Linked DNA regions of Homo sapiens. The protein of the gene in region 6 purifies or fractionates together with the protein of the main gene of each other region. This does not show direct contact. Each region holds a gene or a part of one and is shown on either strand. Other genes may lie near its edges. The genes, in order: SURF4, VKORC1L1, RAB35, CHP1, ARL6IP5, SLC6A5 and TBC1D24.

Region 1 (2,549 bases), on a different chromosome or scaffold from region 6:
AGGCTGTGTGGGTGGGGAGAGCCCTGCACTCCAGGGCCCCTTCTCCATGGGATCAGAAAGGCTCAGTAATCAGAATTTTGTTTATCCCACAGAAGCAGTTGGGCTCGTTGAAAAAGAAGTTCAAGAGTCATCACCGCAAACCCAAGAGCTTCAGCTCCTGTAAACAGCCAGGTTAATAAAAGCACATGCCGTGAAGTTTCGAGAAAGCCTTCAGATATTTCCCCCGCTCCTGATCAAACCGTGTGTCCTCTGAATGATCGGCTGTCCCCAGTGTCTTCTCTACCCACTTATCCTTGTCTCATGACATCTGCTGCCCTCTAAGGCAGGGCTGAGGGAGTCTGTCCCCCACACCCAGGAAGCAGCAGGGACTCTGAGGGACTAATTCTCTCTGGACATGGCTTCTGAGTGGTCTTCAGAGAAGCCTAGAGAAGTAACCTCGCTCACTGGCATCCTGAGGGGAGCCCCATTCAGGCTGGGCAACGCTATAGGATCACACTGCATACAACAAACGCCATTATTTATTTTGATGTGTTTCCAAAAATCAAAACGTTTTCAAACACAACTAAGATATAAAATACAGCATAAAATGAGATTTAGATCTGTTTCCCACATAAAGCAAAAAAATCTTAGAAATTGTTTTGCCAGAATCAATTGGTAGATCCCACTTATCCTCCCCTCCCTGCAAAGGCATCTTCCCGAATCAGGCCCTAGCCCACCCAGGGCCAGGAGAAACAGGAACACCCACTAGGACGGAGGCGCTGCTGGTGCAGAACTGGTGCTGACTGCTCACGTGGCCTCCTTTGGTCCACCCTACTTTCCACCAATCAGCCAACCAACCTTGACCACAGAGAAACCGTGACTTGGCCAAGGTCATTTGATGGGGGCTGTCATACGGCACTAACAGGGAGCGAGGTGTGGACCAAGAGACAGCCCTGGTGAGGTTGAAACACTGAGACAAGCCAGTCTTCATGCAGTGAGCACTTGAATGATCACAGGAGAAGAGAACCCATGTCCTGAAGCCATTGCTCGATCTTACCAATATTCGGGGGTAAGGAAGTAGGCTACCAGGGGAATATTTGCAAACGCGTTGGGACTAGTTCGGCTGTGTTAAAAAGGTAGGTGACTTCCAAAAGCACTTATGAGCAGAAACCTGCCTCACCCCTGCCCTGCAGAGCCAATGGATGAGAGGCCAAGAGGGAGGCAGGCTCGGGGCTGGGCCGCAGCAGCCCTGGAGACAGGCTGAGCCAGCCTGTCCCCAGATAGGTCTAGGGGCCAGAGAGGTGTTCGACTACCCTTGTGGCATTTACTATGGTGCAGACGACAGGGAGCAACAAGCAGTTAAGCTCCCCCAAAAAGAGAAACACAGTATAAGGCAGTGTTAGAAAACTTTAAATACAGGATTAAGATCAAATCGGTAAGGCATCACAAATTGTAAAAAGGAATTTTGGCTGCATTCGGCATAGCAAACGGACAATCTGAGTGAGCGACAGCCTCAGGAAAGTGGTGTGTCGGGGCTGTCCACAGGGCGAGTGCAGCTGGGAAAGGGCGGTGCTGCTCAGCCAGGGCGGCCTGCGCTTTCGAGACCTTGCTCAGAAAAGGCCCCATGTGAGGTAACTGGGTTGAGTCCGTGGGTCTCCAGTGCTGGGAGCTCCTGCCACACCCCCTGCCCACAGCGGCTGCGGCTCTGCAAGCTGGTCTGAGCAGCTGGCCAGGCTGGCTTGCAGGGTGCTGCTGCTGGGGCTACCCCTGTGTGGTCTCACTAGCCCTTCCCACTGCCAGCTTGGAGGCCAGCAGCACCCAGACCAGCAGCTTCCCCAAGGACTTCTTGCCCCTCCACCTTGCCTCAAGCTACTAAAACTCCCAGGGTGTTACCCAATAAAACACTTGGCACCAATCCAAGCTGATTTTCTGACCGATGACTTTTATCATAAACAGCAGCTTCTACCACCCCTTTAATACTGCATCATTCTTTGGGTGTCCCTAAATGTTTTCACTATTCCTATAAAATACAATGCGGGGCAGAAACAACATCAAAGCCACTGGTGTGATTTTAAACCAGGGAGATTAACTGTTTTGAGGTTTGGCTGAACCACCCAAAATAATTTAGTAGTTTCCGCTAAAAATGTAAACTTACAAATAAGAGGGAGACTGCTTTGAATGATAATACCAATGCGTCTGCTCACAGTACAGCTTGAAGGCCCCCTCCTGTACCCCCACAAAAAAACTCAAAAATAGGACTGAGATGCCACAGCCAAGCGGGCTGTTCACTCCAAAGCCTCGGCGTGGGGGAGGCTTCCAGCTGCCAGGCTGGCCTGCACTGAAGGGTCAGACGCCAGACTGTGGCTCCAGAGCAGACTGAGCCATCGATTCTCAGGTGTCTCTGCAAATAAAGTTCTCAAAACATCTGTGCCTTTACCAAGGGAGGGGAAGGGAAGAGGATACATAAAAGCTGGCAGTTTTGTTGAATCCACCCCGAACCAGTCCTTGACGGCCACGGGTCTTAGCCAGGCAGGTAGGGATCTGTGACTGTTACCACTCCTTCTTCTTCT
Region 2 (3,500 bases), on a different chromosome or scaffold from region 6:
TATTTCTAAAGAAATATTTCACCGAAATTAGTAGGCTACAATAGAAATGCTGATTTTTCAATTCTACCATGTACAGCCAGTAAAAACAATAACACACCACTATCTCCTGTCACCATCATTTCATTTAACAAAAGGATATTTCCATTCAAACAATTTGAAAGAACAGAATCTCTCAGAATAAAATATTTTTAAATGGAATCATTTAGCTATATGGAAAAGTTTACTTTCAGACCAGCCTGGCCAACATGCTGAAACCCCGTCTCTACTAAAAATACAAAACAAGCTGGGCGTGGTAGCATGCACCTGTAATCCCAGCTACTCGGGAGGCTGAGGCAGGAGAATCACTTGAACCTGGGATGCAGAGGTTGCAGTAAGCCAAGATCGCGCCATTGCACTCCAGCCTGTGTGACAGAACGAGACTCTGTCTTTAAAAAAAAAAAAAAAAAGTTTACTTTCGTGTCCTTACTTTTTCCCATTTTCCCATAAATCGGTGAAAACTCTGCTGCAAACCTGCACCAGCCTGCCAGCTAACATTCAGTTAGCAGTCCCTGCCCCCTTGGTTTGGTACACTGAGCTCAAATCTAAGGGATCTGGGTGGGCTTCCACCTCTCCCAGTTCTTAGGCTTGTGGCCTTATCTTCATGGTGCCTCAGTTTCTTATGTTAAATAGGGCTTTTAACACCTACTTAGGGCCTGGTGCAGTGGCTCACACCTGTAATCCCAGCAGTTTGGGACGCTGACACCTGGCAGACCTCTTGAGCTCAGGAGTTTCAGACCAGCCTGGGCAACAGGGCAAAACCGTGTCTTTACAAAAAATACAAACGTTAACCGGGCATGGTGGCGCATGCCTGTATTTCCAGCTTCTTGGGAGGCTGAGGTGTGAGGATCACTTGAGCCTGAGAGGCTGAGGTCTGCAGTGAGCCATGATGGTGCCACTGCACTCCAGCCTGGGTGGTAGAGAGAGACCCTGTCTCAAAAAAAGAAAAACAAAAAAACCTACTTTGCCAGATTAGTGTTACGATGAAAAGTGATACATGTATGTTCCTGAAATAAAGCCTGTCCTCAGTTATAGCTGTTACCATTGATTGGAGATGTTCTTTTTTTTCCAGTGTTTGATAATAAATGCCTTTAAGTATAAGTTTCTTGTACATACTTGTTTATATGTTTAAACATTAATTGTTTTAATGTAGTTTATTGCTGACTTTATAGCATAGTATAAAGATGTGTTCATTTAAAACAATTTTGAAGTTGTGCAAGAGAAACTAATGCAGAATATTCTTTTTTTTTTTTTTGATGGAGTCTCGCTGCTCTGTCACCCGGACTGGAGTGCAGTGGCATGATCTCAGCTCACTGCAACCTCCACCTCCCGGGTTCAAGCGATTCTCCTACCTCAGCCTCCCAAGGAGCTGGGATTACAGGTGCCCACCACCATGCCCGGCTAATTTTTGTATTTTTAGTAGAGACAGGGTCTTGCCATGTTGGCCAGGCTGGTCTTAAACTCCTGACCTCAGGTGATCTGCCTGCCTCAGCCTCCGAAAGTGCTGAGATTATAGGCATCAGCCACCGTGTCCAGCTGTAATATGCAGAATATTCTATGTAGGTATTTTCTATATATAAGACCCCCTCTAAGAAGGGTTTCTATGTAAGAATAGTACAAATGATCTGGAAAGGTTAATAGGCTTGACAAATCTATGTTTCTTAAAACTGTAAAAATAGTCTGGTTGTCCTATGGTCTATGTATAGAACATATACCATAGGGGATTGGTTTCAGGACCCCTGTTTTTACTGAGATCCTGGCATACTCAAGTCCCCACTGTGGGCCCTGCAGAACCTGAATGTGAAAATTTGGGCCTCCATATATGCAGGTTTCGGTCTGCATTTGGTTGAAAAAGATCCACGTATAAGTGAGCACACACAGCTTAAACCCGTGTTGTTCAAGGGTCCACTGCATTTGAAAATCAAGTCCATAAAAAAGTTGCCTTATTTTACAAAATGTCGGATTACTACCTCTCCCATATCTTAAAAAAAAAGTACCATCTATTTACTACCCCATTGAGATAATAAAACTTTTAGAATTAGAATAGAACCTAGGGCTGGGCATAGTGGTTCACGCCTGTAATCCCAGCACTTTGGGAGGCTGAGGTGGGTGGATCACCTGAGTTCAGGAGTTTGAGACCAGCCTGGCCAATATGGTGAAACCCCTTGTCTACTAAAAATACAAAAAATTAGCCGGGCATGGTGGTGGGCACCTGTAATTCCAGCTACTCGGGAGGCTGAGGCAGGAGAATCACTTGAACCCGGGAGGTGGAGGTAGCAGTAAGCCGAGATTGTGCCACTGCCCTCCTGCCTGGGCAATAAGAGGGAAACTCTGTCTTACAAAAAAAAAAAAGAACCTAGAAGTATTTACTGCTCTTTGCTTTGTCTGAGACTCAGAGGTTAAGTGACTTGCCCAAGATAGCACAGGTAGTAGCAAATTGAGACTTGACACCTGGCTTCCAGAGTACTTATTTAAAGTCCCCTTTGCACCCCCATTTTAAAAATTAAATTCTTGGCTGGACGCAGTGGCTCACGCCTGTAATCTCAGCACTTTGGGAGGCCGAGGTGGGCGGATCACGAGGTCGGGAGATCAAGACCATCCTGGCTAACATGGTGAAACCCCGTCTCTACTAAAAATACAAAAAAAATTAGCCAGACATGGTGGCACACGCCTGTAGTCCCAGCTACTTGAGAGGGGCTGAGGCAGGAGAATCACTTGAACCCGGGAGGTGGAGGTTGTGGTGAGCTGAGGTCGTGCCACTGCACTCCAGACTGGGTGACAGAGTGAGACTCTGTCTCAAAAAAAAAGAAAAATTAAATTCTTGTCTAGGTAAGGCATTCGCTGCTTCGGATTTGAAAGATAACAAAGCATGTACAGTGAAAAGTCTCCTTCATATCCCTTCCACCAGACAGTTCTCCCGCTCAGTAGACCGCTGTGAAACTTTTCAGAGCCGTTTGACACATAGACAAACATCCACGTGACCATATGATTCCTCCCTTTTTTTAACATGGAAGTATCACGTATGCATCCTTATTGATAGCCTGCTTTTTGCTTGGCATTCGTTCCATTGCTCCCATACTTTAAATGCTTATGTTCATATTTAGTGAAATGTTAATAACTGCTAGTACGTAAAAGAGAATTTGTTCTAGTAGTTTTGACTAACCAAGATAAATTTCAGAAATAAAATTCTTAACATTATCATTGTTTCTTGGTATGGAAATTTCAGAAGCAGGTTGAACTGAAAAGAGTCCAAGAGGAATAGAGAAATATCACAAGGAAGTGAATCTGGACTGTAGTAGAGATAAATGTTAATACTTACAGATAATGCTTACTATGTGCTAGGCAGTGTTCTAAATGTTTTGCATACATTATTGAAGTCTCTCAAGAGTCCCATGAGGCAGGTAGCTTTTATCACCATTTTACACATGAGAAAACTGAGCAACGCAGACTAACACTTGATCCAG
Region 3 (3,500 bases), on a different chromosome or scaffold from region 6:
AAATCTGCACTTTGTTTCAGGGGGTTTCATAGCTTTCGTGGCATTTTCATTAAAAATCTAACAGGAGTGAGATGTTGGAGCCCCCACAGGTCATTTTTTCCAAACTTCCTGAACCAGACGCAAGACTCCCAGCAATGTGTATTGGGAGGAGTGTTAGCACTCTGGAGGAGTCCGGCCTGGATGCAGATCTCAGCTTTACTGCTGCTCACAGAGGCACTTAGGCCGGCCACTCTGGGCCTGAGGTTCCTCATCTCAAGAGATGTGGCCAGAATTATAATCAAAGAGGCATCCAAGGGCTCACCACACACACAGCCCGATGCATGTGAATTCTTTGTGGTCAATTAACTTGGCTGGCCTCAGGGGTGTTGGAGATTGGGGACAGGATAGGAGGACATGGAACAGGTGTACTTGGCAGGCTGAAAGCACTGTGAGTTGAAGTCAAGGGGAGAGGTCCAGGCGCAGTGGCTCATGCCTGTAATCCCAGCGCTTTGGGAGGCCCAGGCGGGAGGGTTGCTTGAGGCCAGAAGTTTGAGACCAACTTGGGCAACATAGCAAGACCTCGTCTCTACAAAAGATTAAAAAAAAAAAAAAAAAAAGCCTGGGCAACGTAGCCAGACTCTGTCCCTACTAAAAATAAAAAAATTAGCTGGGCATGATGGTATGCACATGTGGTCCCAGCTACTCGGGAGGCTGAGGTCAGAGGATCACTTGAGCCTAGGAGTTGGAGGCTGTGGTGAGACATGATTGCACCATTGTACTCCAGCCTGAGTGACTGAATGAAACCCCATTTTTTTTTTTTTGAGACAGAGTTTCGCTCTTGTTGCCCAGGCTGGAGTGCAGTGGCATGATCTCAGCTCACTGCAACCTCCGCCTCCCGGGTTCAAGTGCTTCTCCTGCCTCAGTCTCCCGAGTAGCTGGGATTACAGGCATGTGCCACCACGCCCAGCTAATTTTGTATTTTTAGTAGAGACGGGGTTTCTCCATATTGGTCAGGCTGGTCTTGAACTCCCGACCTCAGGTGATCCGCCTGCCTCGGCCTCCCAAAGTGCTGGGATTACAGGCATGAGCCACCGCGCCTGGCCTGAAACCCCATTTCTTTACAAAAAAAGTGGGGGAGGCCAGATGTGTACATGTTTGTGCTCTAAGCAGCCAGGAGCTGCTGTGGCTGGTGCATGGTCTGAGCACATGTGGGCTGCTGCCCTGATGGGTATAAGGCAGACCCTCCACTCCACCAGCCCACCCGGCGGGGACATCAGCCAGAAAGATGGTAGCCATTGAGTTCTAGCTATGTGGGCCTTGGTTTCCTCACCTGCAAAATAGCCCTGATGATCTCAAGGGTCCTTTCCCGCTCTACAGCTCTTCATTTTGGGCGGCTCCCTAACTGATGTGCTACAACGTGCTGTGCACTTTTCTAGGGACCATGTTGTAGACGCACTTGGGGGCCGTTTCGTGTGGTTGACCTTCATTCTGCTTTGTCGTCTGGCATCTCCCTTTGGGCCAGCCCTCAGCCTAGGGCCTGGGCACCAGTCCCTTTCTCATCTCTCCCCCAGGGGATTTGGGAGCAGCTTGTCTTACACAAGGACGAAGGAAAAGGTCAGGGATCGAGTGGAAGAGATGTTCTTGGTGTGTGGCCGCTCAGGGAGGTGGAAAGAGCATTGAGAAGTGAGCTGGGTCCCACCGAGCTTCTTAAGAGTTGGGACTGAGGCATCCTCTCCCGGAAGAAGGGCTGGGGCTGCGGGGAGGGGACCCACCTGCCCCCCTCATCGCAGTGCTTTCTCTCTTGCAGGTGTGGGCAAGAGCAGTTTACTGTTGCGTTTTGCAGACAACACTTTCTCAGGTGAGTCCTCCCCTGCAGTGCTGCTGGGGTGTCGTTTTTGTTTGTTTGTTGACATCCCCTCCCTGGCACCAAACAGAGTTGCCTCTGCCTGATGTTGGGAACTGTCTCATTCTGGTTGCCAGAGGAGGGAAGAAGATGGAGTGGGGCTTAGGACCTTGTGGCGCTTCTGTCAGAAGCCTCTGTGGTCTGTCTAATGCACCTGCTCACGAAAACCCTTTGGCTGGCCCATCATTTTCCCACCCATGGTCCAAACAGGAAGGTTCCCATAACAGCGTCTATGGTGCCACCCGGGACACAGTCCCTGCTCCTGCCCCCTATGCCTCCCTGGCAGCCTGTGGTCAGCGTGTGTCTTTCTGATTTCTTTCTGCGCTCCACATGCAGGCCTTTGTGGTTCATCTGAGTGCGGTGGGCTTTCTGTGCTTGAAGGCACCACATGGTGCACTGACGCTGCTGTTACATCGTGCCTGACTTCTGGTTGTGTTTTCAGCGATGCTTAGCTACTTGGGATATAGGCGATATTTATTCTTTTTTTTTTTTTTTTTTTTTTTTTGAGATGGAGTCTTGCTCTGTCACCCAGGCTGGAGTGCAGTGGCGCGATTTCGGCTCACTGCAACCTCTGCCTCCTGGGTTCAAGCAATTCTCCTGTCTCAACCTCCCAAGTAGTTGGGACTATAGGCACCTGCCACCACGCCCGACTAATTTTTATATTTTTAATAGAGATGGGGTTTCACCATGTTGGTCAGGCTGGTCTCGAACGTCTGACCTCAGGTGATCCACCCACCTTGGCCTTCCAAAGTGCTGGGATTACAGGCGTGAGCCACTGCGCCCAGCTGATACTTATTCTTGTGCACGTGTTTCTGTAGAAGTGGGGTTACTGGCTTACAGGGTGTATGCACTGAGAATTTTCATAGGTACTGCCAACCTGCTTTTCAAAGAAGCTGGAGTCATTTAATCCAGTCCCACTGAAGGGTGGAAAGTGCCCCTTGTCAACCCTGGTCAGTGCTGGATCTTAGTAGCTGTCTTCATTCTTGCTGAGCTGATAGGCAAAAAGGGCTAACTTGTTTACATTTGTATTTCCCTAATCACTGGTAAGATGGAACACATTTTTGTTTGTTAAATACATCAGGTTCAGCCGGGTGCGGTGGCTCACACCTGTAATCCCAGCACTTTGGGAGGCCGAGGCGGGTGGATCATGAGGTCAGGAGTTCGAGACCAGCCTGACCAACATGGTGAAACCCCGTCTCTACTAAAAATACAAAAATTAGCTGGGCGTGGTGGTGCATACCTATAATCCTAGCGACTGGGGAGGCTGAGGCAGGAGAGTTGCTTGAATCCGGGAGAGGGAGGTTGCAGTGAGCTGAGATGGCACCACTGCACTCCAGCCTGAACGACAGAGCGAGACTCCATCTCAAAAAACAACAAAAAAAATCAGGTTCATTACAGATGCTTTGGGTGGGGTTGACATCTCTGATTATCTTGTGGAGAATTCCCTCTGACATGGCTGGGCTGCCTTTAGAAAGTGATTCCGTTGGCCAGGCGCGGTGGCTCACGCCTGTAATCCTAGCACTTTGGGAGGCCGAGGCGCGTGGATCATGAGGTCAGGAGATTGAGACCATCCTGGCCAATATGGTGAAACTCTGTCTCTACTAAAAATAAAAAAATG
Region 4 (3,060 bases), on a different chromosome or scaffold from region 6:
TCCCCCAGGTTTTGGAGAAGGTGGATGTAGAACAGAAAATGAGCATCCGATTTCTTCACTAAAGGAGACCAAACTGTTCCTTGCGGTCTAGTATTTAAGAACTGGAACTTGAAAGTCCTCCTTCTACCAACTCCACCTCCACCCCCTCATTCCCCTTCTCCCAAAGTACTACTGCTGTTGCATGACAACCCCAAATATGTTCTGTCAACACAAACCTGCCTTTGGTGTATAAACAGGGCATTACAGAATGGTACACCCTATATATTTCTGTTCAGTATCCATTCACTAGTTCTTCATTTATAAATATCATCTTCCCCATTCTGCTGCTGAATGCCACACATCCATCCAGTCTGAGAAAGTGAGAGAGGCAATCATGCCAAGAACAAGCCAGCAAAGCTCTTTCACCAGATGTAGACTGTAGCCCTGCTGCCTTCCCTCCAGCGAGTCTGCCAGCATGCTTCTTCATCCTTTTTATATGTTCTTTGCTTCCTACTTCCCTGTCTTCCAACATACTGTTCACTTACTCTGGCAGTCTTTCTGCTTTTCATTAAGCCTCAAAATCTCCTCTGTTCTACTTGGCACCACAAGCTATGTCCTATATATGTATTTCTGACTTGGCAGGATAGTTCAGGGGTCTGGCAGTTTTTATTTACCTTCATTATTAAATGGGCCTCTGGGATGTTGCCTCTTCAGGAGCTTTTTGGTAATCAATACTTCTCTCAGAAGTATGAGACCATCCTCTGCACTCTGCTCTGTCATCAAAGGCTGCTGGGTGGAGATACCCTTTTTGAAAGGTGGCCTTGGTGAGAGGTATGGAGCCAAGTCTTCTAGGTTGCTTGCCCACATCACTCTATCTCTGGCCTCTGATTCTCAACTTTGTACCTGTGTGGCTCCTCTTGTTAGTGCAATGTTGACTGTTGAAAAAGCAGCAGTATGCTTACAGGTTTGCTTAGTTTGGGGACACCGTTACCACCAGAATGGCTGCTCTGACAATATGCCTAGGGACTTTCTCATGGCTTTTATTTAATAAGGAGGCTGGGCACCCTATAAAGCCTCATGCATTCACACCTTTGCAGCATGGTTTATGCCTCAGTGTTATGTGCACTGGAATGTTTTCCACTTCACATTTCCAAGTAGAAATATTAGTGTTACGGAAGTGCCTAATATCCCAGTCCAAATTTTTTTTTTTTTTTTTTTTTTTTTTTGAGACAGAGTCTTGCTCTGTCACCCAGGCTGGAGTGCAGTGGTGCGATCGCTCACTGCAACCTCAGCCTCCTGGATTTAAGTGATTCTCCTGCCTCAGCCTCCCAAGTAGCTGGGATTACAGGTGTGCACCACCATGCCCGGCTAATTTTTTGTATTTTTAGTGGAGACAGGGTTTCACCATGTTGGCCAGGCTGGTCTCGAACTCCTGACCTCGTGATCCGCCTGCCTCAGCCTCCCAAAGTGCTGGGATTACAGGTGTGAGCCACCACGCCTGGCCCCAGTCCAAAATATTTAAAGATTGTTTCCTTAGTGTCTTGAAGTTTTGCACAAAATTCTTTTTTTTGAGATGGAGTCTCACTCTGTCACCCAGGCTGGAGTGCAGTGGCGTGATCTTGGCTCACTGCAACCTCTGCCTCCTGGGTTCAAGCAATTCTCCCACCTCAGCCTCCCAAGTAGCTGGGATTACAGACGTGTGCCACCATACCTGGGTAATTTTTGCATTTTTAGTGGAGAGGGAGTTTCACCATGTTGGCCAGGTTGGTCTTGAACTCCTGACCTCAGGTGATCCTCCTGCCTCGGCCTCCCAAAGTGCTGGGATTACAGGCATGAGCCACCGTGCTCAGCCGCAAAATTCTTTATGAATTTTACACTTGGCAAATGTTAATGACGGAAGCCATAGTCTGCTCCTAATACATGTCCAAAGCATTGACTGTTGTGTCATTAGCTGCCTGGTTACATTAGCTCCCTGGCTTCTTGTTTAGACCACTGCTAATCCCTTAAAAACAAGAGGTCTGGCACTAGTAGCACAACCTAAGGTGGCATTACAGATCTTTGAGCGAGCCACAGCAACTTTTCTGCCAAGTCAGCTTAGTTTAGACTTCAGTGAATCAGGCTATTGCTATCCTAATGTATGTCTCTATGAGTGTATTTAGCCACACATCTGCCCTTGGTTGACTTTCTGACTCATTGCTTGCTTGCTTGTTTCCTTGCTTTGGAAAACTATTGAAGATTGCTAAAAAATACCACTGCAAAGTGATGGAAAAGGGTGGAGAACAGGGGAGTAGCCAGGCTGGATGGCTCAAATATAAATGAATGAGGAATTCTTTATGAAGTATCAGTCAGATTTTATGATTAAGTGATGTAATATAGGAATTATGTAAAAGGGAAGAATGTCTGATACTGATCTATTAGAGAGGTACTTTAGAGGCTTCTTGATTGGCATAAAGTTCCTAAGGTTATAGATTTTCCCCCCTTTTGGCTGTATAGCAAAGTGTTTTAATCCACGGTTGTGCCTTATTGTTCCATTAAAATTGTATCTTCGATCCATCAATAAATACTTGTGGTTGAAACAAAATAACTTTTGTCCATTTTACAAGAATTTTATGTAACTTAGTCCCTTCAAGTTTGAAATCACAGTGTCTCCCTTACTCAAGTTTATGTCTGTACGGTCAGCTGCAGTCTACTCTGCTGCTGCCTGGATATATGAAGTGGAAACATTCATCGAGGGGCCAGCACTTTTGGCTTCGACATGGTTTTGTCAGCCGTGGCCACTTCCCATTCATTCCAGCTAAGACGCAATTTCTATTCTTGACTCCCTGACTCCTTAAATGTAGAAAAAGCCTAAAAATCCAGTATATGTCCATTCCTTAAATTGCCCACCTCCTCATTCATGTGCAGCCTCAGCGGTGACATACTCTGGTTTTACATGGCTTTTTCTTTGCATTTCTTTTTTGAGATGGAGTCTCACTCTTGCCCAGGCTGGAGTGTAATGGCACAGTCTTGGCTCACTGCAACCTCCGCCTCCCAGGTTCAAGCAATTCTCCTGCCTCAGCCTCCTGAGTAGCTGGGATTACA
Region 5 (3,500 bases), on a different chromosome or scaffold from region 6:
GTTTTACCATGTAGGCCAGGCTGGTCTTGAACTCCTGACCTCAGGTGATCTGCCCGCCTCAGCCTCCCAAAGTGCTGGGATTACAGACATGAGCCACCATGCCCAGCCCAGGCCCAGCTAATTTTTGTATTTTTAGTAGAGGTGGGGTTTCACCACGTTGGCCAGGCTGGTCTCAAACTCCTGACTTCAAAAGATCCACCCACCTTGGCCCCCACAAAGTGCTGGGATTACAGGCTTGAGCCACTGTACTCAGCCTAGAAACTTCTACTTCTGAGCTATCTAACTTATATGATAAATCTACCTAACAGACAATGCATTATGTATTACAATTGCTTTTACCCACTCAATATATAATGTCTTCCCATATTATTAAATGCACTTCAATGTTTTAAAAATAGCTGTGTATACAATACCACAGCTATTGGTATTGTTGGCCATATAGGTCGTTTCTGAAAGTTTTTAATCATAAATACCACTAATATCAATACTGTTACAACTCAATCTTTGCGTTTTTGTTTAATTCCTTAGACTATATTCTGAGGAGGGGATTTATTGGCTTGAAGGATACAAGTATTTGCAAGGATTTTGAATGAAATTAGCAACTTATTATTGTAGAGTTTAGTTTTAAATTATGTACAACTGGCTGGGTGCGGTGGCTCATGCCTGTAATAGCACTTTGGGAGGCTGAGGGGCGGGGGGGGTGGGGGGTGGATCACATGAGGTCAGGAGTTCGAGACCAGCCTGGCCAACATGGTGAAACCCCGTCTTTACTAAAAATACAAAAATTAGCTGGGCATGTTGGCGGGTGCCTGTAATCCCAGCTAGTAGGGAGGCTGAGGCAGGAGAATTGCTTGAACCTGGGAGGCAGAGGTTGCAGTGAGCCGAGATCGCGCCATTGTACTCCAGCCTGGGCAATGAGTGAAACTCCATCTCAAAAAAACAAACAAAAAAAAATTATATGCAACTACTCTTACCACTGTTTAGCTTTGTGCATCTTAATAGAAATTTTTAGCTTTTTCAAAGCAGTTTGACATTGATTTTATCCCTTAATTTCACCCATTCAGGTGTGAAAAGCTTTTACTCTTAATTTTAAAATGTTCAAAATTCCTTTTATGTTTCAGTAGGCAGAAACAGAGCTAAAATTTAAAGGGATTTTTGAAAAAGAATTGTATTTATCCTGAATACGAATCCCAATATGAGCATGAGTTCTTCATCTCTTCCATTTCAGAGAAAGTAAGCTCTTGGCATCACCCTCCCTTATCCTGTCTTCCCCCTTCCCTCATTTCAAATCAGCAATGTTACTATTCAGGGCATGAGGAGAACACACTATCGTCTGTGTCCTTCCCAAGTAAAGTCCTCATTAGCCTCTAGGGTAAAAAGTTAAGTAACTCATTGTACCAGCCCACCACAGACGTCTTGTTAAGGGTTTTGTATACACAGTGGATTGGGGTGGGCGACTATAATGCCCAAAACTTTGTCTAAATTTCTTCTTCTTATTATCATTATTGAGACAGAGTTTTGCTCTTGTTGCCCAGGCTGGAGTGCAATGGCGTGATCTCAGCTCACTGCAACCTCCACCTTCTGAGTTCAAGTGATTCTCCTGCCTCAGCCTCCCAAGTAGCTGGGATTACAGGCATGTACCACCACGCCCAGCTAATTTTTGTATTTTTAGTAGAGATGAGGTGCCACCATGTTGGCCAGGCTGGCCTTGAACTCTTGACCTCAGGTGATCCACCCACCTAGGCCTCCCAAAGTGCTAGGATTACAGGTGTGTGCCACCATGCCTGGCATAAATTTCTTCTACATAATGTGTTTCCTCCATTATCAATAGTAGTGTAATTGCTATTACATACTAAACATTTGGCTTATATAAGAATGAATCTGGAACTGTGTGCTTGAAAATCTGCATTGGTAACTCATCTCCTAATGATACTTTGGGCATTTTAAAACACTTATAATGAACTCTCTATGTGAGGAGTCATAAACTCAAATGCCTCCATGGGGCAGGCAGGTTATGTAAGAGAGCGATTCAGGCCAGCTATTAGAAAAACAATGATTAGACTGGGCATGGTGTGGCTCATGCCTGTAATCCTAGCACTTTGGGAGGCCGAGCTGGGCAGATCACTTGACGCCAGGAGTTCAAGACCAGCCTGGCCAACATGGCAAAATCCCACCTGTACTGAAAATACAAAAAATTAGCTGGGCGTGGTGGCATGTACCTGTAATCCCAGTTACTCGGGAGGCTGAGGCACAAGAATTGCTTGAACCCAGGAGGCAGAGGTTGCAGTGAGCCAAGATTGCGCCACTGCACTCCAGCCTGGGTGACAGAGCAAGACTCTGTCTCAAATAAAAAAAAAAAAAAAAGAAAAACAGTGATTAATAGCACCTCACTTTGGGCCTATGTGTCCATGATGCAGTAGAGAGCAGTGTGGACTGGAGCTCAATGGAGACTGTTTATTCTGTCTGAATGAGAAGGCACTCAAGCCAGCTGTTGACATGTGGGAAAGTGGGCCTAGCACTGTTATTTTCTTGTTCCAGGAGAACAAGAAATCCCAAGTTTTCTGGATTTTTTTTTAACACATGGGTTTCAAGTAAAAGTTTTTTAAAACACTGTACAGGCCAAACAAAAATGTGACTGTATACTGGATCTAGCCCATGGAGGCCATTATGTGGCCTGTATTCTACATTCGTCCATCATGAGCTTCTCTGAGGATTTAAATAAACCTTTAGAGCTAAGAAAACACAACCTACTGTGTACTAGAGCCCAGGATGTAAGGAAGCTAAACATAGTACCTTCAAAAGAAGTTTTAGTCTTCAAAATTGTGGACCTCTAACGAGATACTTTGATGGGAACTGCCTGGGTGTGATCTCAGCTCCACCTTTTTTTTTTTTTTTTTTTTTAATGAGATAAGGTCTCACTCTGTCACCCAGCCAGGAGTGCAGTGGGGGAATCTTGGCTCACTGGAGACTCAACCTCCCAGGTTCAAGTGATCCTCCCACCTCAGCCTCCTGAGTAGCTGGGAACACAGGTGTGTGCCACCACACCTGGCTAATTTTCATATTTTTGTAGAGATGGGTTTTGCCATGTTGCCTGGGTTGGTCTTGAACCCCTGGGCTCAAGTGATCCTCCCACCTTGGCCTCTGAAAGTGCTGGGATTATAGGTGTGAACTACCATTCCTGGCCTTCCCCACCATTTTCTAACCTCTGTGCCTTAGCTTCTTCATTTGAGAAATGAACTAATAGTATCTCCTTTATAAGGTTATGAGAAATCAAATGAGACAATTTAGATAAAGTATTAAAGTATTAGTAAGTTCTCAATAATTGTTTTTACTCCTCTTTCTCCTTTTGCTACTTCTATTGCTGAACTAGTCACCCCTCATTTTTTCTTCCTCATATTTCAGGTTTCTGAGTCCCTTCAACATGATCCTGGGAGGAATCGTGGTGGTGCTGGTGTTCACAGGGTTTGTGTGGGCAGCCCACAATAAAGACGTCCTTCGCC
Region 6 (3,500 bases):
CAACTCACATCACTTATCTGTTGCTAATTATAGAGTGTCGGAAGGGTAGTTTTGCTGGTGGGAAAATAACAGCACTTAGTGTAAACCACAAGCGATTCTATTTTAAAAATATTTTTACCTGAACCCTTTAAGGGCTCAGACACATCTGAATACTTTTGTGCACCCACACAGGGCCAGCACAAGCTGAACTTTGTCTTTGCATATTCTGTACAGGCATATCTAACTCTAAAATTTCCAATTCAAAAACTACAAATGAGGGGGTGATTGTTGAAGGGGAACTGAATTTTCTCACCTTAAAGGAAAACTCTGCTTTTCCAGGATGTGTTAAGATTGCATAGCTAGGATTGAGTTTGATTGCACAAAACAGAAAGTCTCCACTTAATAGCAGGTAGGACGTGACACTATAAAGTCTGCAGCGGCATAGAGGTTGCTTTACTGAGATTGGGGCTACAGAGTTTCAGAAATTTAATAGCAGTTGTAATCTGCAGAAATGTCAGTTAAAAAGGGTTTTGATTTTGCATCCGTTGTTATATTTTTCTGTTGTAAATTATTATTTTCTGAGAGTGTATTGACCTAAAGGAAGGACTCTCCCTTCCGTTTAGCTTTACAGGAGAGAACATATGAGCATGGTATGTAGTGTAGTTTATTGAGTTCCTCACCTTTGATAGAGGAAGTTAAAATCTCCCAGGTAATTGACTATGCCTTTGGTTTCCAGCACAAGTGATTTATGTTCTCATTGATGTTGATGTCGGGGGTCATCTTGTCCCTGATGTTTCCCCTGGAAACATGATATGGCACTGGGTGTGTGACTCCTCTCCCCTGGCGCCAGTCTCCTTCATGGGTCTTGAATCTCTTTCCCTTTTGCCTCTCAGGTGTGGAAAGATGCTGCCACTCAGATTTTCTTCTCTTTATCTGCTGCATGGGGAGGCCTGATCACTCTCTCTTCTTACAACAAATTCCACAACAACTGCTACAGGTATGTAGAGGTACTACAAGATCTGGGCATAGCTGGTGAGTGGGACAGAAGAATGGACTGAGTTATCAGACACCTGAGGCCACATCCTCACATTTCATCTTAGGGAGAGCTAAAGATTTGCCTCTGGCCTAGGAGAAACCACCTGCTAAGGCCTAGGCACTATCTTCTGAAGGCCTGGACCCTCACTTACACACCTGGCTCTGACACATGGGGGAGGCTCAGTGGCTATTTACAGGATGGAAGCAAGTTTGTCTGCAGGTCACTGTGCAGTTGGCTGTGTTCTGTGACAGTCATTTGTGAGCTACCTAGTCTGTGGATACAATGGACTGTGCCTTCAGATGGTCTTCCCTCTGTGTGGGGCTGTGACCTAATCTCCTCTTCTTATAAAGACCCCAGTCATATCAGTCACATTGGATCAGGGACCACTCTAATGACTTCATTTAACTTAATTACCTCTTTAAAGGCCCTATCTCCAAATACAGTCACGTTATGAGATGCTAGTGATTAGGATGACAAAATATGAATTTGGTAGTGATAGGGGAGTGGTAGGAAGACACAATTCAGTTCAAAATGACCTTGAGTAACAGACTATGGTATTTAAACTTCATTAGTCACAACTGCTCATTAACCATTGACCCAAATCAGTCTGAACACCATTAAAGGGTGAAGCATTGCTATCTTCTTTATTAGAAATGAGGCTGTGGTGTGGCAGAAATAACCCAGGCTGAGAGCTTGAAAATCTAGATTCATATCCTGGCCCACACTATTAATTAGTCCATTACCTTTCCCTGGGCCTCAGTTTCCTCTTCAGTAAACTAAGGGGTCAGACAAGGTGGATCATTTGCTGCACACTTGCTCTGTGCTAGGCGGTGCATAGTACAGGTATCATCTCATTCTCTCCTGGCAACAGCCTATGACAGATAGACTCATTGCTGCCATTTCAAATCAGAGTGGAAAGGAAGTGGATTGCTCAAGGTCATGCCACTAAAAGGCAGGAGAACCAGGATTTCAGTGTAGCCCTGGGTTACAGTGTAGCCCGTCTAGCTGTGACCTCACATTTGAATCTAGGATGACTGAAGGTAGACTGGGAAACCCTGGCTATCTTACCAGCAGCAGGCTCTGCGATGAAGGTAGAGACACTGGGCTCTCTTCCCTCCCCTGCCCCTTTGTCCTTCTCAACCCTGTGTGTCCCAACTCCAGGCTACCCTCACATTTTAGGGTCATTTGACTTTCCCACTGCCTTCTCTTCCCTCACACATAGTTCCTGTCCTGGAGCCGACCAAGGCCCCATCTCCTCAATTTCTGTTCTGATGAACAGATTTACCTCTGCCCCTGGAATAATGTCTTAGTTTGTTCAGATTGTCTAACAAAATGCCATAGACTGAGTAATATTTTTTCTTTATACGTTTTTTGCTTTTATTATTTTTAAATGACACATAGTAATTATGCATATTTATGGAGTACAGTATGATATTTCGGTACATGTATACAATGTGTAATGATCAAATCAGGGTAATTAGCATATCTACTACCTCAAACATTTATCATTTCTTTGTGTTGAAAACACTGACAGTTCATTCTTCTAGCTGTTTGAAAACATAAAATAAATTGTTGTTAATATAGTCATCTCATAGTGCTGTAGGATGATTTTTTTTTTTTTTTTTGAGATGGAGTTTCGCTCTTGTTGCCCAGGCTGGAGTGCAATGGCCAATCTCAGCTCACTGCAACCTCCACCTCCCAGGTTCAAGCAATTCAAGTAGCTGGGATTGCGGGCATGTGCCACCATGCCCCGCTAATTTTTTTTTTTGTGTGTGTATTGGGTAGACACGGGGTTTCACCATGTTGGTGAGGCTGGTCTCGAACTCCTGACCTCAGGTGATCCACCTGCCTTGGCCTCCCAAAGTGCCGGGATTACAGGTATGAGCCACCGTGCCCGGCTGGGATGGTTGTTAATATAGTCATCCTATAGTGCTATAGAATACTAGAGTTTATTTCTCCTACCTAGCTATATTTTTGTATCTTTAACTGACTTTTGGCTATAAACAACAGAAATTTATTGCTCACTGCTCTAGGGGCTGGGAAGTCCAAGTTCAAGGTGCCAGAATATTCAGTGTCTGGAGGGCTGCTCTCTGTTTCAAAGATGGCACCTTGTTGCTGTGTCTTCATATGGTGGAAGAGGCAGACACATTCCCTTCAGCCTATTTTATAAGGGCACTAATCCCATGAGTTGGCTCTGTCTTCATGACTTAATCACTTTTCTAAAGCCTCCACCTCTTAATACTATCAAATTGTGGATTAAGTTTCAGCCAATGAATTTGAGATGGGGGGATTCAGACCACAGCAGATGAGTTGAGACCCATTTATATAGATCGTGGAGTCAGAGCTTTGGCCCACAGGCCCTGAATCAGGGCTATTAGGGGATATCGTCTGAGCCTTTTGGTGCTTTTTAAGTGAGCCCAAGGGAGCCTGTGGTTAGGACATGAACGTACACGTATATGCCTACACATGTGCAGACAAACATGTG
Region 7 (3,500 bases), on a different chromosome or scaffold from region 6:
TTCTCCCCACAGCAGGTCTGGAAAAACACCCCCAGGACACAGGAGGAGAACCAGAGGAAGAGAGCTCAGCTGTCAGCAGCACAGGCATTTTGATTGGTCTGAGTTCCAAGCCAGTGACAGGTGTGCCTTGGAAGGCCAGGCACACATCAGGTTCTCAGCAAGTGTCTTTAGACCTAAGGAGAGATCCAGCTCGAGGTGGAGTTGTGCATGTTTAATCATTTTATTTTTATTTACTTTTTATGTCTGGTAGAGACAAAGTCTCACTATGCTGCCCAGGCTGGTCTCAAACTCCTGGCCTCAAGCAATCTTCCCACCTTGCCTTCTCAAAGTGTTGGGATTACAAGCGTGAGCCACCACGCCCGGTCCTAATCATTTTAATAGGCATTCAAGACATGCTTCCCGAATGCCAGTGTGCCAGGTACCTGAGTGCAGAGGAGTACAGAGGCATGGCCCCACCCCAGCCCGGGTCAGGTGTACTGACGATGCCAATTCAAGGTGCAGGTGCTGTGACACGGTGCTTTCCCAGCGCCAAGGCCTGCCTCGGCTGGATCTTGCAGTGTGAGGAAGCCTTAGCCTCAGAAGGGATAGAGACAGCGTGGTCAAAGGACAGGGCCCCAGAGGGCAAGTCTGGTCAGAGCTACCCAGCTCCATGAGAACGTGGGCCGGTGAGTGTCCTTTGGGGCTCTGACTAAGACACTTCTACGCTTCAGCATAACAGGCACCAAGAAGCCAAAGGGCCCAAAACAGAGGCCTGGGATTTACTAGGCTGCCAGGAAAGGACAGTGCCCCTGAGTGCTGGGAACATGGAGAGGACAGCCCAGGAAGCCGCCAGAGCAGAAAAGTTAATGTCCACACCTCGATCCTAAGGCCACAGGTTTACCAAGGTAGCAAGGCTAGAAGGACCCTTGCCGGGAAAGGGATCACAGAGGGTAATTAGGGAAGGGGTGGAAATGATTCAAGGAAAGGCTGAAGGGACCATGTGATGAGCTCCATTTACCATGCCACAGTGAGTGGAAGGGCTTTTACTGGAAACCGAATGGCCCACCAGTAAACAACCTCTCTCGGTGTGTGGCACCCAATTAAAATTATGTAACAATCAGGCAGACACACAGTCTCGGATTGTGGGAAATCTGTATCCTCAGTAGATTCCCAGGTCCCCTGTGGTGTGTTCTCAATGACCTGCAAGAAAAAGGGAACAGGCCGGTGTAGTGGTTCATGCCTGTAATCCCAGCACTTTGGAAGGTTGAGGTGAAATGATCCCTTGAGCCAGGAGTTCAAGACCAGCCTGGGCAACATAGTAAGATACTGTCTCTACAAAAAAATAAAAAATCAGGAAGGTGTGGTGGCAAGAACCTGTAGTCCCAGCCACTCAGAAGGCCGAGGTGGGAGGATGGCTTGAGCCCAGGAGGTTGAGGCTGCAGTGAGCCGTGACTGCACCATCGCACTCCAGCCTGGACAACAGAGCAAGACCCAGTCTCTTAAAAAAAAACAATTAACGACCAGGCACGGTGGCTCACACCTGTAATCTCAGCACTTTAGGAGGCCGAGGCAGGCGGATCATGAGGTCGGGAGTTCGAGAGCAGCCAGGCCAACATGGTGAAACCCCGTCTCTACTGAAAATACAAAATTAACTGGGCATGGTGGCACACGCCTGTAATCCCAACTACTAGGGAGGATGAGGCAGAAGAATCGCTTGAACCCGGGAGGCGGAGGTTGTGGTGAGCCAAGATTGCACCACTGCACTCCAGCCTGGGCAACAAGAGCAAAACTCCATCTCAAAAGAAAAAAAAAACAATTAACAAAAAGAGAAAAGAAAAAAAGAAGGGAACACACTGGGGAGGGTTGCAGGAAGCCATGGCTGCATATGCACAGTCCTCGGAGGCCATGAAGCCTGCGCCCCTGTGAGCAGGTTCTGTTGGAGGGTGTAGATAACAGCTCAAGCCTTATCCAGAGGCTCAGCCAGCCCTGGGGGACCACGTGCTGGCCACGGGCAGATAGGGGCTGCTTCTGCAGCACAGCCTTTCCCCGGCCTCATCCATTCCACCCCTCAGGTGGAGGACTCAGGGGGTGGGGGACGCATCACACACGTGGCCTCTGTTCTCAGCAGACTTTTTCCAAAGTTGTACCTGCTGCCAATGCTGATGGACCACACAGAAACAGGGTCCTGGAAGGAGAGTGAGGTGCCCCTGAGGGCTCTGCAGCCTTGGGTCTCTCGGTCTGAGAAGGCTTTTCTCAGAGCCCTACCTGTGGGAACGTCTGAGACGAGCAACCCTCAGACTGCAGGTGAACTAGGTCCTTTGAGAAGAGCGACACTGAAGCTGGAGGTTCCCCAAAAGGCAAATAGACACGTGAGACAGGAAGGCCACTGCAAGGACACTGGCATCCCCCCCGTCCCATACTCCATCCTTCACTCCAAGAGACAAATTAAAAGGCCAGGCCAGGCACCGTAGCTCATGCCTGTAATCCCAGCCTTTGGGAGGCCAAAGTGGGAGAACTGCTTGAGTCCAGGAATTTGAGACCAGCCTGGGCAACAAAGTGAGACCCCGTCTCTATAAAAAATGCAAAAATTAGCTAGGCATGGTGGTGTGCGCCTATAGTCCCAGCTACTCAGGAGACTAAGGTGGGAAGACTGCTTGAGTCCGAGAGGTCGAGGCTGCAGTGAGCCATGATCTCATGATCCCTCCATTGTACTCTAGCCTCGGCAGTGGGAATGAGACCCTGTCTCGAAAAAAAAAAAAAAAGAAAAAAGTCTATCGTCCCAGCTATTTGGGAAGCTGAGGCAAGGGGATCGCTTGAGTCCAGAAGGTCGAGGCTACAGTGAGCCACTGATCCTGACACTGCACTCCAGACTAGGAGAAAGAGCGAGACCCTGTCTCAACAAAAAAAAAAAGAAAAAAGCCCACTACCCTGCCCCATTCCCCCAAAAGGCAACGGGTTACTGACTGGCCTTCTGTTACCTTACTGACTTTAAGACTGTATTAGGAGTCCACAGGGTTCAGGATTCCGTCTCGTTTTTCTCACTCTGCACATTCTCCTGGGAAGACCCAACCCAGTCCCCAGCTTGGATGGCACACAGCATCCCCAAAATGCTCTCGTCTAGTACACTCTCCTTGGCTCCAGGCCAAAACACATATGCTTACTGCCCAGTCTCGCAGTAACCTCATCGCCATCTCCACACGGTGCCAGCCCGCCCCCTCCCTCCACACTCTGCATGGGGTGTGGCACTGCCCGCTGCTCAATACTGGAACATCCCCTCCTTCCTCCCTGGCTCTTCCCATCCTGCAACCACTTGTCTCAGAGTCTTGCTCTCTTTTTTCTTCTGAAACAGAGTTGACCAGGGTGGAGTGCAGTGGAACAATCATAGCTCACTGCAGCCTGCAACTCCTGGGCTCAAGTGTTCCTCCCGCTTTGGCCTCCCAAAATGCTGGGCTTGCAGGTGTGAGCCCCCGGGCCTGGCTGAGTCTTGCTCTTTTCTGTGCTGATGTCTCTCTGGGTGTGCC

What was found.
Region 1: the proteins of SLC6A5 (region 6) and SURF4 purify together in Homo sapiens (affinity purification with mass spectrometry; one large-scale study listed by BioGRID and IntAct). This does not show direct contact.
Region 2: the proteins of SLC6A5 (region 6) and VKORC1L1 purify together in Homo sapiens (affinity purification with mass spectrometry; one large-scale study listed by BioGRID and IntAct). This does not show direct contact.
Region 3: the proteins of SLC6A5 (region 6) and RAB35 purify together in Homo sapiens (affinity purification with mass spectrometry; one large-scale study listed by BioGRID and IntAct). This does not show direct contact.
Region 4: the proteins of SLC6A5 (region 6) and CHP1 purify together in Homo sapiens (affinity purification with mass spectrometry; one large-scale study listed by BioGRID and IntAct). This does not show direct contact.
Region 5: the proteins of SLC6A5 (region 6) and ARL6IP5 purify together in Homo sapiens (affinity purification with mass spectrometry; one large-scale study listed by BioGRID and IntAct). This does not show direct contact.
Region 7: the proteins of SLC6A5 (region 6) and TBC1D24 purify together in Homo sapiens (affinity purification with mass spectrometry; one large-scale study listed by BioGRID and IntAct). This does not show direct contact.

The regions. Positions count from the first base shown.
Region 1 is NC_000009.12:133,360,964-133,363,512, forward strand, and holds the end of SURF4 (surfeit locus protein 4), read right to left. Parts: coding exon 2,530-2,549; 3' UTR 2,513-2,529; coding exon of another isoform or gene 2,501-2,512; 3' UTR 501-2,500; downstream 1-500. Other genes in the region: SURF2 (surfeit locus protein 2), read left to right, coding at 93-176. UniProt on the Homo sapiens protein: Endoplasmic reticulum cargo receptor that mediates the export of lipoproteins by recruiting cargos into COPII vesicles to facilitate their secretion.
Region 2 is NC_000007.14:65,876,074-65,879,573, forward strand, and holds part of VKORC1L1 (vitamin K epoxide reductase complex subunit 1-like protein 1), read left to right. Parts: intron 1-3,500. UniProt on the Homo sapiens protein: Involved in vitamin K metabolism. Can reduce inactive vitamin K 2,3-epoxide to active vitamin K, and may contribute to vitamin K-mediated protection against oxidative stress.
Region 3 is NC_000012.12:120,106,754-120,110,253, reverse strand, and holds part of RAB35 (ras-related protein Rab-35), read left to right. Parts: intron 1-1,786; coding exon 1,787-1,837; intron 1,838-3,500. UniProt on the Homo sapiens protein: The small GTPases Rab are key regulators of intracellular membrane trafficking, from the formation of transport vesicles to their fusion with membranes.
Region 4 is NC_000015.10:41,279,328-41,282,387, forward strand, and holds the end of CHP1 (calcineurin B homologous protein 1), read left to right. Parts: intron 1-8; coding exon 9-62; 3' UTR 63-2,560; downstream 2,561-3,060. UniProt on the Homo sapiens protein: Calcium-binding protein involved in different processes such as regulation of vesicular trafficking, plasma membrane Na(+)/H(+) exchanger and gene transcription. Involved in the constitutive exocytic membrane traffic.
Region 5 is NC_000003.12:69,098,437-69,101,936, forward strand, and holds part of ARL6IP5 (PRA1 family protein 3), read left to right. Parts: intron 1-3,402; coding exon 3,403-3,500. UniProt on the Homo sapiens protein: Regulates intracellular concentrations of taurine and glutamate. Negatively modulates SLC1A1/EAAC1 glutamate transport activity by decreasing its affinity for glutamate in a PKC activity-dependent manner.
Region 6 is NC_000011.10:20,627,108-20,630,607, forward strand, and holds part of SLC6A5 (sodium- and chloride-dependent glycine transporter 2), read left to right. Parts: intron 1-872; coding exon 873-976; intron 977-3,500.
Region 7 is NC_000016.10:2,478,127-2,481,626, reverse strand, and holds part of TBC1D24 (TBC1 domain family member 24), read right to left. Parts: intron 1-3,500. UniProt on the Homo sapiens protein: May act as a GTPase-activating protein for Rab family protein(s). Involved in neuronal projections development, probably through a negative modulation of ARF6 function. Involved in the regulation of synaptic vesicle trafficking.